Linked DNA regions of Homo sapiens: region 2 is linked to region 1. Evidence: fine-mapped expression QTL. Tissue or cell type: cerebellar hemisphere. Region 1 holds a variant in brackets; the other region holds the start of a gene. All regions are shown on one strand. Distances are between the middles of the regions.

Evidence for each region. PIP is the estimated chance that this variant, and not a neighbour inherited with it, causes the effect.
Region 2: it holds the start of ANKS1B, and the variant in region 1 is fine-mapped to the expression of ANKS1B in cerebellar hemisphere (GTEx, PIP above 0.99).

What each region holds. Positions count from the first base shown.
Region 1 is chr12:99,413,775-99,421,882 of GRCh38, forward strand. The region is part of intron 11 of ANKS1B (ankyrin repeat and sterile alpha motif domain containing 1B); the gene reads right to left. Among named protein-coding and RNA genes, the nearest start is that of GARIN6, 230 kb to the right of the region's middle. The variant G/A (reference allele first, on the strand shown) is at 3,702.
Region 2 is chr12:99,980,619-99,988,726 of GRCh38, forward strand. It overlaps ANKS1B (ankyrin repeat and sterile alpha motif domain containing 1B), which reads right to left and starts at 4,318. Exons shown (of 27, transcript NM_001352186.2): 1 at 3,486-4,318. The coding sequence starts at 3,619. RefSeq lists an enhancer at 3,348-4,178 and a silencer at 4,291-4,340.

The DNA of each region.
Region 1 (8,108 bases):
CTGCTTCTCAGACACTGCAATCCCACATAGGAGCAAGGTCAGATTTACTGATACAGGCAACTGTCCAAAGCAGCTCTTCTCCTGCTAGCTGTTGATGTTCTCTTCCTCTCTGCCAGCTCCATAACAAGGGCCCTCACCCGGTGCACCACCCTCGCCCACACACACACCCTGACCGAGGCCCTGAGAGTTCCAGGTTCCTGCACCTGCCTTTCCTGCCCAGGGCTTTTTGAGAACAGACAGTTGCTCTCAAGCCCAGGGCTTTCTGAGAGCAGACAGTTGCTCTTGAGCCCTTCTCTGAGGTCCTCTGAACACCCCTACTCCACCATCAATCAGAGCAGTTATACTTTTTTTTTTTGCTTTTACCTATTAGGTTTCTGTTAGGTTGAAACATATGAAACTGCTGATATTCAACCGTATTACCTGCAAAAATAGCAATTTCATATAACTCAGCCTACATAAACTTTTCTTTTAACAGAGTTCTCTGGCTAAATAATTTGAAAACCATTTCTCTAGGCCTTAAGTGAGCCTGACATTTTGCTGGCCCCAGTAAAATTGAACTCTTTCCCTTCTTAGACATCACTAGTAAGAGTATAAAGACACATGCACATGTATGTTTATTGCAGCACTATTCACAATAGCAAAGACTTGGAACCAACCCAAATGTCCATCAATAATAGACTGGATAAAGAAAATGTGGCACAGATACACCATGGAATACTATGCAGCCATAAAAAGGATGAGTTCATGTCCTTTGCAGGGACATGGATGAAGCTGGAAACCATCATTCTCAGCAAACTAACACAGGAACAGAAAACCAAACACCACATGTTCTCACTCATAAATGGGAGTTGAACAATTAGAACACGTGGACACAGGGAGGGAAACATCACACACTGGGGCCTGTCCAGGGGGTGAGGGGTTAGGGGAAGGATAGCATTAGGAGAAATACCTAACGTAAATGATGTGTTGATGGGTGCAACAAACCACCATAGCACATGTATACCTATGTAACAAACCTGCGCGTTCTGCACATGTATTCCAGAGAGTATAAATGGGTATATGCCCTTTTCAGGGCAACTTGTCAAAATAGATTTTTTAAAAGTGTTAAGTCTATCCCTAGTATTTAACATACATAAGCATGAGTGTGGAGTTTGTTAGATGGAAAATTTGTAATATATGTTTCTTCGTATGAGTTAGTTTCTTCATACAATGTATTCAAATCTTCATTGGAAAGACTGTATACACACATGAGAGGATAATAAAAGTTCTAGTTTTTATTCTAGTTTTATTTAATAAAGGTCAAAAGTAGTTTTGGACTCAATGTAGATATTAAAGACCTGAAAAGCATTTTGACCTCCAAACCATGGAGTTTGTCCTCATAGAAGCTTTCCCAGCATGAAAATAGTCACAACTATTTTGCAAAAAATACTTTTTGACTTAGGTATTGCAAATACTTATATATTAATATTTTATAGATGTTCATGTCAACTTCAAATGCATCCAGAATTTAAAATAAGTAAAACCAGCTTTATTTTCCACACTTAAGTTCTTTTTTTAAAGCAACAATTTCAAGTGATTTGTTTCATCTTAGGAACAGCAGGAAATAATTATGCAATGGATTATAGAAGATATATTCTGAACAGCTAAAATAGGAAGCACATATCACTGTGTGGGTGAAAGAAAGACATTTTTACAAATAAAGGTGCACACTGCTTTTTAAATAGCTTAATTTTTTAATTAAATTTTTTATTTTCAATAATTGTAGATTCATATGCCATTGTGAGAAATCATAGAGTGCACTCATGTTTCTTTTTCCTAGATTCCCTCAGTGGGCACATCTCACAAAATTATAGTGCAACATCGTAAAAAGGACAAGAAACAGAGCAATTCCATCACCACGAGGATCCCTCCCATTGCCCTTTTTTTTGAGAGGGAGTCTCGCTCTGCCGCCCAGGCTGGAGTGTAGTGGTGAGATCTCGGCTCACGGCAAGCTCCGCCTCCCAGGTTCACGCCATTTTCCTGCCTCAGCCTCCTAAGTAGCTGGGACTACAGGCGCCCGCCACCACGCCCGGCTAATTTTTTGTATTTTTAGTAGAGACGGGGTTTCACTGTGTTAGCCAGGATGGTCTCAATCTCCTGACCTCGTGATCCACCCACCTTGGCCTCCTAAAGTGCTGGAATTACAGGCGTGAACCACCGCGCCAGGCCCCATTGCCCTTTTATAGCTACACTCACTTCTCTCCTGCCCCCACCTCCACCTTAACTCCTGGTAACTACCGATCTGTTATCCAGTTCTACAATTTTGTCACATTAATAATGCTATATTAATAGGATCACACAGTATGTAACCTTTTAGGACTGGCTTTTCTCACTCAGCATACTTTTCTGCAGATTCATCCAAGCTGTTGTGTGTATCAATAGCTTGCTCCATTTTATTGCTGGATAGTATTCAATGACATGGATGTTTAACCATTCACCCAATGAAGGACATCTGGGTTGTTTCCAGTTTTTAGCTGTTATGAATAATGCTGCTATAAATATTTGTGTACAGATTTTTCAGTGAACATGTTTTCATTTATCTGGGATAAATTCCCAGAAGTACAAATGCTGGTTGGTATGGCAGTTCAATGTTTAATGTTTTAAGAAACTGCCAAACTGTTTTCCAAAATTGCTGTACAATTTTACATTTCCACCAGCAATCTATGAGCTTCTCTGTATCCTTGCCAGCATTTAGTGTTGTCACAATTTTTTATTTTAGCCCTTCTGATAGGTGTGTAGTGATATCTCATTGTGGTTTTACTTTGCGTCTCCCTTGTGGATAATGATGTTGAATATCTTTTCTTGTGCTTATTTGCTGCCATCTACATATCCTCTGCAGTAAAACGTCTCTTCATGTCTTCTGCCCATTTTCTAATTGGATTATTTTTATACTATTGAGTTTTGAGAGTGCTTTATAAGTTCTAGATATTATTCTTTGTTAGATATGTGATTTATAAATATTTTCTCCAGTATGTACCTTGTCTTCTCATCTTCTTAATAGGGTTTTTCACAGAGCAAAAGTTTTTAACTTTAATGAAGTACATTTTTTTTTAACCAGAGGTGCTAGTCACACCTTATTCTTTGATAGAGCATAAACAGAGGTGGGGAGGGAGACAGTGCAAAGGGAGAAGGGCAGGCTCTTGAGAGCGAGGTTACTGGCATGCAGTCAGGCCCCCTCTGATTTGGGGACTATCACTTCTTAAACACGTGCTCTGTGGCCGTTGCCATGCCAAGCTCATTTATATTTGGGAGGAAGGAGAGGATCAGGACAATTTATTTTTTTATGGATTATGTCTTTGGTATCAAGTATAAGAACTCTTTGTCTAACTCTAGATCCCAGAAATTTTTTTCCTATTTTTTTCTAAAAGTTTTATAGTTCTATATTTTAAGTCAATTATCCATTTTGAATTAATTTTTACATAAGCCATATGACTTAGGTCAAGTTTCAACTTGTGGCCTGTGTATGTCCAACTGCTCCAGCACCAGGCTATCTTCCCTCCACTGAACTGCTTTTGTACCTTTGTCAAATAGCAGTCAGGTTTATGTGTATGGGTATATTTCTGGGTTCTCTCTTCTGTCCTATTGATCTAAGTGTCTATCCCTTCACTGATAATACTACATTGTCTTAAGTACTGTAGCTATAAAATAAATCTTGAAACTGG[G/A]TAGACTGATTCCTCCCACTTTTTTCTTCTCTTTCGATTTTTTTTTAGTTATCCTAGTTACTTTACGTATCTATGCAAATATTAGAATAATCTTATATTTACAAAAAAGTGTTGCTGTGACTTTGATAGGAATTATGTTAAATCTAAATATCAATTTGGAACAATTTACATCTTTGCTACACTGAGTCTTCTAATCCATAAACAGGTATGTCTTTCCACTTCTTTGAACATTTTTTTTCATCAGTGTTTTGTAGTTTTCAGTATACAAGACCTGTACATGTTAAAGAGGAGTTCACCGAGGCTCATAATCAAACTATCAAAAATTAAAGACGAAGAAAAAATTCTGAAAGCAGCAAGAAGTAAGAAACATATCACATACAAAGAAGTCCAATGTAACTATCAGTGGATTTATCAGGAAAAACCCTGCAGGCTAGGAAAGGGGTAGGATGATATCTTCAAACTGCTAAATGAAAACAAATTGCCAACCAAGAATACTTAAATCAGTTAAGCTGTCCTTCAGAAATGAGAGAGAAATAGTAACTTTCCCAAACAAAAGCTAAGGGAGTTCATTATCACTGGGCCTGTTTCACAGAAATTACTAAAGGGAGTTCTTTAAGCTGTATCAAAAGGCCACTAATTAATAACATAAAACATGCAAAAGCACAACACTCAATGGTATAAGCATTACAGAATCACATTCAGAATACTCTGGACAAAAATGTTGGTATGCAAAGCAATTTTATCTCTAGTACAATGGTTAATAGACATCTATTAAAACAACTATAAATAAAATAATCAGGGGATACAAATTACAAAATGATGTAAATTTTGACATCCAAAACATAAAATGAGGGATTTGGATAAAAGTGTTAGATTTATATCTAATTATTATTTTTTCTTTTTGTATTTGTGATTATAAATGACCTTGTATTTTTAATTTCTGTGTATATATGTTCATAACTAGTTCACAGAAATACAATTTTTTTATGTGTATCTTGCATCCCGTGACCTTGTTGAGCTCACTTATTAGTCACAGGAGTGCTGTTTTTGTTTTGTTTTGTTTTGTTTTTTAGCTTGCTTCGGATTTCTACGAAGACAATCATGTCATCTGCAAATAGGAAGTTTCAGTTTTCCTTTCCAAATCTGTATGCCTTTTATTTTTTTGTTTTTCTTCTTGGCACAGGTTAGAGCTTCCAGCACTATGTTGAGTGACAGTGGTGAGCACAGTGGACATCCTTGCTTTGTTCCTAATCTTAGAAAGAAAGTCTTCATGTTTTTACCATTAAGTATAATGTTAGCTGTAGATTTTTTATAGATGCTCTTCATCAAGTTGAGAAAATTCCCCTCAATTTCTATTCTTTTAAGAGGTCTTAAAAAACAAAACAACATGAATGGGTGTTGAATTTTGTTGAATGCTTTCTGTGTATCAATTAATATCATTATGTGGATTTTCTTCTTTATTGATTTCAAATATTGAATGAGTTATGCATCCCTAAAATAAACCTCACTTTGTAATTGTATATAATTTTAAAAATACATTTCTGAATACTATTTGCTAATATTTTGTTAGGAATTTTTTGTCTATATTCATGAGGAATATTGCTCTGGGGTGTGGGTGTATGTGGAATTGGGAATACTAGGTCATAAAATGAATTAGAAAACATTCCCCCATTTTCTTTTTTCAAGACAAGATTGTTTAGAGTTAGTGTTAATTCTTCTTTAAATGTTGTTATAATTCTCCAACAAAACAATGTGAGCTTGGAGATTTATTTTTTGAAAGCTTTTTTGATTATGAATTCCATTTCATTAATAGTTGTAGGGCTATTCACATTATGTATTACATATTGGGTAAATTGTGGTAGTTTGTTTTAATAATTGATCCATTTTAGCTAAGTTGTCAAATTTATGTATGTAGAATAGTTTGTAATATTCCTTTATTATCCTTTTGATGTCTTCAGGGTCTGTAGTGACATCCCTATTTTATTCCTGATATAGGTAATTTGTGTCTTTCTTTTTTCTCTCAGTTTCACTTTAAGAACAGTAGGAAATAACAATATAATGATTTACAGAAGATATGTTCCTAGCAGCCAAAATATTAATAAAAGCTTATATTGCTGTATACGTGAAAGAAAATTTTTACAAATAAGAGTGGGCATTGCTTTTGGTTTTTAACTTCTCAAAGGTCATTCTGCTTTCTAATTCTTGTTTTTAGAGATAGGGTCTCACTCTATCCCCCAGGCTAGAGTCCAGTGGTAAAATCATATCTTACTGCAGCCTCAATCTCCTGGGCTCAAGCGATCCTCCCACCTTAGCCCCCTGAGTAGTTAGCAATACAGGCACACACCACCGTGTCCAACTAATTTTTTAAAACTCTTTGTAGATATATGGTCTGGCTATGTTGCCAGGTTGGTCTCAAATTCCTGGCCTCAAGTGATGTTCCTGTCTTGACCTCCCAAAATGCTGGGATTTCAGGCATGAGCCAGCACACCCAGCCTGCTTTCTAATTCTTAAGTCATCTCTTTACTATTATAGTAATAGTGCCCATGAAATACATTCTGTTTCAGGTATCCTACCTTTTTTTCATCTAAATCCTACAAAAACTCCACAGATGGGCAGACAGGGAAACTGAGTGTCAAAGATACTCAGTAACTATTGGACAGCTTTAGAATCCAGCTCTCTCAACACTTAAAAGCCATGAATACACTTTCCATTACATCATTCTGTCTTTTTGCTATAATTACCCAAAATGTCTTCCTATACAATAAAAATAACAGAACTTTTTTAGCTTAATGATAGTTTAAAAGAATATTTTCCCCAGAGTATCTGTAAAAGCATTTACCACGAGGGTTATCACAAAGTAATAAATATGTTAGTAGGTAGAATAAAGTTAAGGTTTAAACCAGAAAGATGTGACAATATAAGTACTTCTGTGAATAAATTTAAGATGGTGTGAAGTTTTAAGAATAAGCACATAGCACTTCCCCTGGAGTAAAATATAATCAGGGTCATAAAAATTTGTGTCATAATATGATAGCAATAAGTTTTAAAGTGAAGATAAGTATTACAATTAATTTTAGCTAACAAGTTCAACTCCTTTTCTGCTATTTTTCTAAAACAGTTATAAAAATGCCCATTAATAAAAGTTTGTCTTTTTTTCCTGACTCATTCCTGGCAAAGGAATATTCAAAAGGTTGATATGAAGGGGTATAAGTATATAAAGCAAGTGTTAAAAAATACATAAACTCAGTAATAAGCTTCTAAATAATCAAGAATTGTTATGATTTGTATGTAAATTTCATTTGGATTTCCCTCAAGGAAACAAAATCATTAAGTTCTGAAATAGTCTCTAATTCTAAAACTCCTTTCTTCATCTTCATATCAATGAAAAAATTGGTATCCTCAATTAAAAAGTACCTTTATGTTTCTAACTAATTCCTATGGGTTAAACTTATTAACACATATTTGGGAGACAAAATAGGATTTGCAGCAAAGTAGAATTGGATTCAGATCCTAATGTCGGTATTTACAGTTTAGTATTTGCATTCACAAAATGAGGATTATATAAGCCTCCCCACAGAATTATTGTCTGGATTAATTGAGATAATGTAAATGAAAGACTAGAATAAGGCCTAAATTAGTAAAGGATTGATAAGTATTCATCTTCTTCTCCCACTGTAATATTTTAGTATAAGTAGGATCTAACTGAAAGAAGACATTGATGAGTTAAATCATAAGGCAGCCCTCCTAATAAATGGCAGAATCACCAAATTACATGAACAGTCCAGCAGAATCTCCCTGACACAATTTACAGAGGTGAAGGTTGAAGGAAAAGAGGAAATCAATAGGTTCGGAAGAAAATACAGCACACAGACTTATTTTATCAGTGTTTAAGAGAGCTGCCCTGGAAATTGCAGTAAGAGCTCTAAGTAGAAACCTTCCGGGGGCGTCTCTGATGGGAAATAAGTGGCAGAGACCCTGGTAGAACCTCTCTAAATAGCCCACCATCTCTGATTTGGAGGAGTGAGGGCTCATGGCAATGAGGGACCACAAAGAAGGGGGAAAAAGAAGAGAAGATACACTCCAATTAATCACAATAAGCCTTTTTAGAAAGCATGGCATTAGGAGGTTAAAGAGCCCCTGTGGTGACTTGTTTACAGGAGCAGAAAGTTAAGAGGCTGTTAGGAGCTTGAAGAGGAAACATCAGACTTCAGCTTCTGAGAAAGAAGTTAGTCATTAGACATATTTTGCTTTAGAAACAAACCCAAGTGATATAGTTTGAATATATGTCCCCATCAAATCTCACACTGAACTGTAATCCTCAGTGTTGGAGGTGGGGCTTGGTGGGAGGTGACTGGGTCAATGGGGCAAATCCTTCATGTCTTGGTGCTGTCCTCGTGGCAATGTTTT
Region 2 (8,108 bases), 570 kb after region 1:
GAGAATATGTAAAGAAGGAAAGAGAGAGTAGAGAAAAGTATGAAAACTAAGTTCTTAACATCTATGCTGTCTTGCCATATAAAAGGTTAACAGAGATGATAGCTCTTCCATGAAAAATACTTATAAGAAAACAAAAATACATGCATCTAAAGAACTATCCTGCAGATGAATTAGACTGCTTTATATTGACCCATACAGCCAATCTACTACCAATTGCTGAAAGTCACAGGGAAGTGGATTTTAGCTCAATGAAAAGAAAAATTTTAAAATAATTACAGCTGTCAAAAATAGAATGAATCTAGTCATTGGAAGGTTTAACAGGGCTGGAATAACTAACAGGTAAGAAATGTTACAGAGAAAATTTCCGCACTAGGTGAGAAGTTGGAAGAAAGTTCCCTCCTTATTTGACGATTCTATGATTGCTATGGGAAATTTACTCCCAGTCCAATAGGAAGCAAATCTTTAGTCATTAAGGCCTTAAAGAATACAGTCAAGTGCTTTAGAGGTGCATGAAAAATATTAACACTAACGATGAACACCTATATGCTAAATGTTTTGCATTCATTACTTTATACTTCATTTAATCCTTATAATGATCTTATATGATAGGTACTATTATTACTATTTCCACTCTGATAGAATAGTGAGGCTTAGAGAGGTTTTTAAATTTATTCAATGGCATTCTTACATTTGCTGAAAATTGCAGTGCCACCCAAAAGCATACCTGATTCCCCATTACATAGTTACTGTTGAAAGGATAATTTCTTATTACCAGTAGATAACAAGTAATCAGAAGCATCTTCAGAAAAGTTCTTGTCTAGTGAACCCTCAAAGGGCAGTTGTGAGATTTTTTTAATTAGAAAAAAATACCAAAATTTAAGGAATTTCAAATTATTCTTCATAGCAAAAAATGTTCAGATTGGCCTGTCTAAATTGGCCACATACCTTTAAACTTTTGTGAATAAAACAGATTCAATGAATGAGACTTAAAATGTTGTAAAACAAATCTGAATCACAGATTTTCAAATCTTTGCCATTATTAATTAAGTGACCATGGGCAAGTCCTTAATCTTATCTTTTTATTCCTTCATCTGTGAAATGACAATGGACCTCCTAAGGCTGACACAAGAATTGAATGAGATGACACGTGTAAGCACTTAGCATAGGGTCTGACACCATTATTACACAACCCAGGTAATAAAGCAAGCGGGGAAAAAGTGCCAAACATATTCTACAGTTCCTTCTAAAACATTAAGAAATTTCAAAGTGTCATTATGTTTGACGGGGGACACATTTTCCATTATCCTGCCAATAAATTTCTGATGACAATCATTTTTGAAATAAAGTGACAACTAAATAAAATGTGCCTTCTTAGGAATGTCATTTTATGCAAATGATTGCCCAAAGAATACAATTTCAACTCTCATTTTCTTCAGACACTATTCAGTATAAGATGGATAAAAGCAAGTTTAAAGGTTATTGGTTTTGTTTGTGATTTTTACAACTTGGTTCGAAGTACTCTAATAAACACATGTTGTTTACTTTTGTTTTCTATGTGCAATCTTTGTTGTAGAGCTACTACTACTACTACTACACCAGCAAAAGAGAAAACCTCTCACTCAAGATATACACTGTGGGTCACTATTTTGATACTTTAGTGTCCACTAACATTAAATACTTGGTGTTTTATCCCTAAAACTTGACATCTATTCTTTAAAAAAAAAAAAAAAAATCACAGCTGGGAAAGGAGTATTTAAAGGATGTTTGCTTTTGAGTTTTGTCACAAGGAGTGTTTTTAAAATACGATTTATCACAATAAAATTAAGTGAAATTCTCACTGTTCTCAAATAATTCCTCATGTTTTCCCGAAGAAATTGTTTATTTTGAGAAAATTCTTTCAGCATACCAGTTTTTAGACATAATCATTTTTATAACTGATGGATCCACAGCAAACGTTGTTATTTTACGTGTAACTTAAAACTGTAAAGAGATAAATTGCTTTCACATAAACTACATGTGACTACAGGCAATTATTAGAGCTGCAATCTGAAATATGCACACATTGTCTACCTGTGTTTGAAAGAGAAGATTATTTAACAAGGGAGTACACACAAGTCATCTCTATGACCTATTGAAAAAATGTCCCATAAATATTCATTCTTCTGACATGAACTATCATTCCAATAAAATGTCACTGTCAACGAGTATATAGAATAACATATGGGGCTTTTTAAAATCCCATCGACTATTTTTCAACTCAATTTATTTCACTGTAATAGAAACTTTCCATTTTCCCTTTTAGCTAGCCCTATAATTAATTGCACTGTCTGACCACCACAACCTATGAGAACTTGTGTAAAGAACGCAATGTCATCACCCAAAAGTTTCTATTAAGCACTTGTCAAGGGTAGCATGGAACAGTTTTTAAAAAACCAGGGAAATCACTTGGGCTTTCTAAAATTTTTACAACTATAGTTGGGTTATCCAAGAGATGTTTTAAGGCGAAGATATGAATGACAATTGATGACTCCAAAAATACCCAGGATAAATTGGATAGCCACGATTTTAGAAACTAAAGAGCTTCCCTTGAATTGTATCTAGTGAATACTCTCCAGGCTTCCTCCCTCCCAGTTGATTTCATTTGTCCATCAATACAACTTTTAATAGTTTCTCAAGTATGGAAATCAACCCCGCTATTTCCAAGGTACTGCTGAATGAAGACCTTGACATTTTTTTTAAATGTCATCTTAGAAAGATTCTCCAAGCAATACCAGTCTCACCTACGACATCTTCACGTTAAAAGGCCTCTACCGTACTCCATATACAGTATCCCAATACCAACCTGGCATCCTTCATCCTGAGCTATAACAACCAAGTTTCACTCAGCTATGTCCAGGTAACTGAAAGTATTGCTGGGGCTGCCTAACCTGCCCCATCAAGTTTTATACACACCCTGTGCTGAAGACATCTCACCAGAAAGAAGGTTCACTCACTTCATTTTGTGGGATCATAACCCACGGCACAGCAAACGCCTTCTGCAAGAGAAGGTAGGAGCCACCGAAGGCTGTGGCTTTTGCAGGGTAATTGCATGCACGCAAGAGATTCTCTGCCAATTTCATTTAACTAGACAAAAAAGGCTGCGTTCAAAGCTGCAAATATGTAATAAATGTTGATGGAAAGCGGGCGGAACGTCGATTTTCTTCAAGCAACACTAGTACATGTACAAGTTCTGCACCAGGGCTCAGAGGAAAAGTAGCTTACTGACGCATTGATGGAAGGCTATTTTAAAATTACTCAAAGAATCTAAGGCATCAATCTGACTGGGAGGCTCATACCTCCTCTCCATACACGCAGTCTGTTTTCCTACCTAATTTAAGAATGAATCGCTGGCAGCCACCAGGTGCAATAACCGTGAGGAGGAGGACGTATATCCATCACAATGCATAATGAGGTGTGCCAACCCCGGAGCTGGTGCCCGTCCTTACCTTAGCAGATTAGACAGGGGCAGGGGTCCGGATCCACCGCCCAGGATCCCTCCTTTCCTGCCAGACAGGAGTTTCTCCACCAGAGCCACATTTCCAGTGCGAGCAGCTTCCAGCAGCTCCTGGTCCTTCCCCATAGTCTCTCACCGACTCCCCCACAGAGTCCTTGCCCCCCTCGGGTCCTCCTCCCCACCCACCCCCACTCCCCAAAATCCAGGGCCCTCTTCGCCCCACCCTAAAATAATGCAAGAGCTTCAGCACGGAGAGCTCCCTGCAGCCCCAGGCAGGGAGCACGACTCTCTCCTCCTCTTCGGGGCGCAGCTTTTACAATGGGGATCAGACCATGTCTTGAAAGAGGGGCTGGCCGAGCTGGGAGCCGCGACGCGCCCCCACAGCCACTCCCCTGAATTCCCAAGGCCTCGTTCCCGCGGGTGCGGCGTGAGGGGGTGGGGACTCGGGGGTGCTTTTGAGGAGCGGGAGGAGGGTGGTGAGGACTGAGGTCGGAGGAGGAGGAGGAGGCGGCAGAGAGAGTCCTAGCTGGAGCGGGAGCGCAGGGAACACCCGCGGTGGCAGCAGCGGCCCGCGCGCCCTCGCGCCCGACCCGGGCTCGCCTCGGCTTCCTCGGCGGTTACGCGGGGGCGGCGTCCGCGGCGGGGAGGAGCGCGGCGGCGGCGGCGGCGGCTCGTGCGCTGTGGCCCGCGCCGAGGCAGGGCGGTGGGGGGCAGCCGCAGCGGGCGCGTGCCGAGGGCGGCGGCGGCGGCGAGGCCTGGCGCGCGGGGGGCGTGTGCGCGCGGGCAGGTGCGGCCCCTGGTGCGGCCCGAGTTGGGTGGCGGGCTGGCGGGGAGGGGCCGGGCCGGCTGAGGCGGGGCTTCGGCCCTGAGATTCTCTTCGTTCTCGTGGGCGGGGACCCTCCCTCCTCCACTCTCCTTGGAAGAGCGTTAACCGTGTGAGGACTGGAGTTCCCCGGGCCGCGTCGGCTCCTCCTCGGCCCGGCGGGCCCCGGCAACACGCCTCGGGTCTGTCACGACGCCTGAGGAAAATCCTCCGTGACAGGAATGGGGAGGCTGGTGACACTGGGGAGGGGCCCTTTGGCCACCGCTTCCATCAGAGTCTAGGCAACTTGACCGGCATTTCACCCTTCCGCTTTACCTCCCCAAGAGAGCCTGAGATCTGCCCTTGGTTAGAAAGAAGAGGCTCGTTTCGTCCTAGTTTCTGTGGCACTGGCCACCGAGCAGTTTGCGACTGTTTCAGTTTTTCTGGAGTCTTTAATCAGCCCATATTTTAGTTGGGCTTTGGAGATCTGCTGACTTGTAAGAATACCAGGAAAAAGGCTCTCATTGAAAATTTATCCACATCTACACTCGAAAAATATAAATGGGCATGGATTAGAGATCCACTTTAATTTGCATATATCATCAGCAATTCATTGTGCATGGTTGGCATGACTTGTTAGATGCTCTCCTTGGCCGTGGTGGAGAACGCGCGTTTATTTTCTATTAAAACTTCCTGTTACACCTTGTGCTTTGCATTGTCCTTGGAATAGACTTCATAAATGTTCACTTGTTGATAATTGATTGGTAAGAAGAGGACTTAATAGGCACTGTGCTTACAACAACCCAGTGAACTGGATATTATTATATCCATTTTAGAAATGAGGAAATAGGGCTCAAATGGTTAATTAAATTTCTCAAGATGCCACATGGAGTAAGTGGCTGACTCAGAACTAGACCCCAGAACAGACTCACTCCAGACACCATGTGCTTCCCAATATACGTTCCTGCCCCCCATGGAAAAGCGAAATGGACAGACAATAATTATTGCATGCATTTGATGAGTAGTTGCTACATACCAGACACTATGCTAAGTGCTTTCCATGTTCTCATTAAGCCTTGCAACAATCGCATGAGATAGGACCATTTTCATCTCTATTTTGGAGATGAAGAAACTGATTACCCGCAAGATAATAGGGATAGAAAGTAACTGAGCCAAGGCTCAAATCCGGCACTGTCTGCTGTAGGCAAAGATTTTCAATAAATAACTGGGGGAAACTTAAAAGGCATTTAGAGATAAATAACAAGAGTATATTAAAACATTTTTATGGAATTCATTGTGTTCTGAGATTTCATTTCAATGATTCAAAATATTAGGTAAATTATGGCTATTTATTGGAGGTTTCCTGAAGTATGTAGATTTTGGCTAGTGTAGTTTTTTAATTCATTTTGATTTTGTTTTCTGTGTTAGAATCTGTTTTAATAAGATAATCTATGTTATAATAATATAATCCCTGACATAATGGGACTAGCAGACCAATGAAAGAAACGAGATAAGGAGCCATCACATTCATTTTGAAAATGGCATAGGGAAATCCTTCTTCCTTTTTCCTAATGTTGCCACCTAAGCAAAACACACCTTTCCCAGAATATACTGTAAGTATTCAATTGGTCAGAACTGAAAATCACCCACAGTTTTCACAAGCAACATTTAATCATGGATGAGTTGGTGACCGCAGGCCCCGAGTCATCTTATCGAAATCATGCAGCCCCCACCCCCAATGGGAAAACCATTAGTAATGATTTACTCTAAGAATCAGTTCCACAGTTCGGGCATTCTACTGACATATGATAATCAAAGCCAATTTTTCAGCTTCAAACTCTTTGGTTTTAGTGACCTCATAACTTTGTTTTTCTGTAGACATTGCAGTGACTGCACCTCATAGTTTTTTGTTGAAGAGGATAAAGGCTTTGGCTACATGGGGACTAACATGCAAAATAAAAGTGAAAACATTCTTTTAAAAATCTACAGAGGCCAAAATAAATATCCAGATCTTTTAAACATCCAGATTTCATCAAGATGTTTTGCATCTGTGAATAGTGAAAAGAGTGATAGAATCTTGGGAACCAATTAGACAATCTCTATCTCAGTGTGTGCATAAGTAAAATGAAGAAGTTATGTCGGATGCCTTCCACTGGCCTTGCCAGCCATAATATTCTATGCCTGTGATGAAACGTGGTCTTAGTCCATTAAGTCATTTGCATCACTGAAGCTAGAAATTAAGTATGGAGATAGATTTGAGATTTCTATTCTGTTTTTATTTGATTTGATTTTCTGAGACAGAGTCTGACTCTGTTGCCAAGACTGGAGTGCAGTGGCACGATCTCAGCTCACTGCAACCTCTGCTCCCAGGTTCAAGTGATTCTCAAGCCTCAGCCTCCCCAGTAGCTGAGATTAGAGGCGCCCACCACCACGCCCGGCTAATTTTTGTATTTTTAGTAGAGACAGGATTTCACTATGTTGGTCAGGCTGGTCTCAAACTCCTGACCTCAAGTGATCCACCTGCCTCGGCCACCCTCTATTTTGTTTTTAATTATAAAATAAATATATATTTTTTCGGGTTTTTAAATCTATCTTTGCTATTCTCAATGGACAGTATTAATAATAGCAAATGTAGGCCGGGCATGGTGGCTCATGCCAGTAATCCCAGCACTTTTGGGAGGCCAAGGTGGGTGGATCATGAGGTCAGGAGATCGAGACCATCCTGGCTAACATGGAGAAACCCCATTTCTACTAAAAATACTAAAAATTAGCCGGGCATGGTGGCGGGCACCTGTAGTCCCAGCTACTCGGGAGGCTGAGCCAGGAGAATGGCGTAAGCCCAGGAGGTGGAGCTTGCAGTGAGTGGAGATCGCGCCACTGCACTTCAGCCTGGGCGACAGAGCAAGACTCTGTCTCAAAAATAAATAAATAAATAAAATAAAATAAAATAATAATAATAGTACATGTGTATTTTGTGCCAGGAATGATACTATACCCTTTACTTTCTCTCATTTTATTTAATTCTGAAGTAACACTGTAAGAAGATATTATAAGTCCTGCAGAATCTCTGAATCCCTTATATTTCAAATTCTGATATAAATCTACTTCTGGATACTTTTTGGCAAGAATTATTGCTCTAATATACACATACTGCAAGTCACTCTTCTAGGAGTTGATTAATAAAAGAAGGGACTAGGGGTTGAGATTAGAAGGGGGAAGTGAAGCAAATACCAGTTTTTGTATAGAAGTGTTTGCACACACACACAAAACTCTTTGGAAACATTAAAGAAATTGAAGGACCATGAATCCAGACCAATCTTAGAATTATATACCAAGGTCTGTTTTCAGTGAAGAAGAGAAAAAGATAATATCTTATAACATGAAGTTATCAACAGAGCTGAAATAAGAAGATAACCCTGTGATTTATGAAGTAGATTTACTTTCTCCATCTCAAGTTCTGAAGTTACTCTGCATCACTAGAACTATGAAGTCAACAGCTTCAGGTTACAGAATGTGAAAATACTAGACATCTGGATAGAAGAGCAGGTTCTTGCTTCCTGCATGACATTAAAGTTCTTCTCCACATGGCCACATGGCACAAACTCTGTCCCTCATCATCTTCCTGAGGGAACCCAAACACCAAGTGTATTATATTTACAATTTTTCTGAAGATTCATGGCCATGAATGTTGAAGGCCACAGAACACCAATCACCCATCTTCTCCAAGTTATAATTAGCTGAACGCAGACACAAGGAATCAAAGAGTATCTCATTAGCATATCATCTTTATTACGAGTCATATAAGGGTCTAAT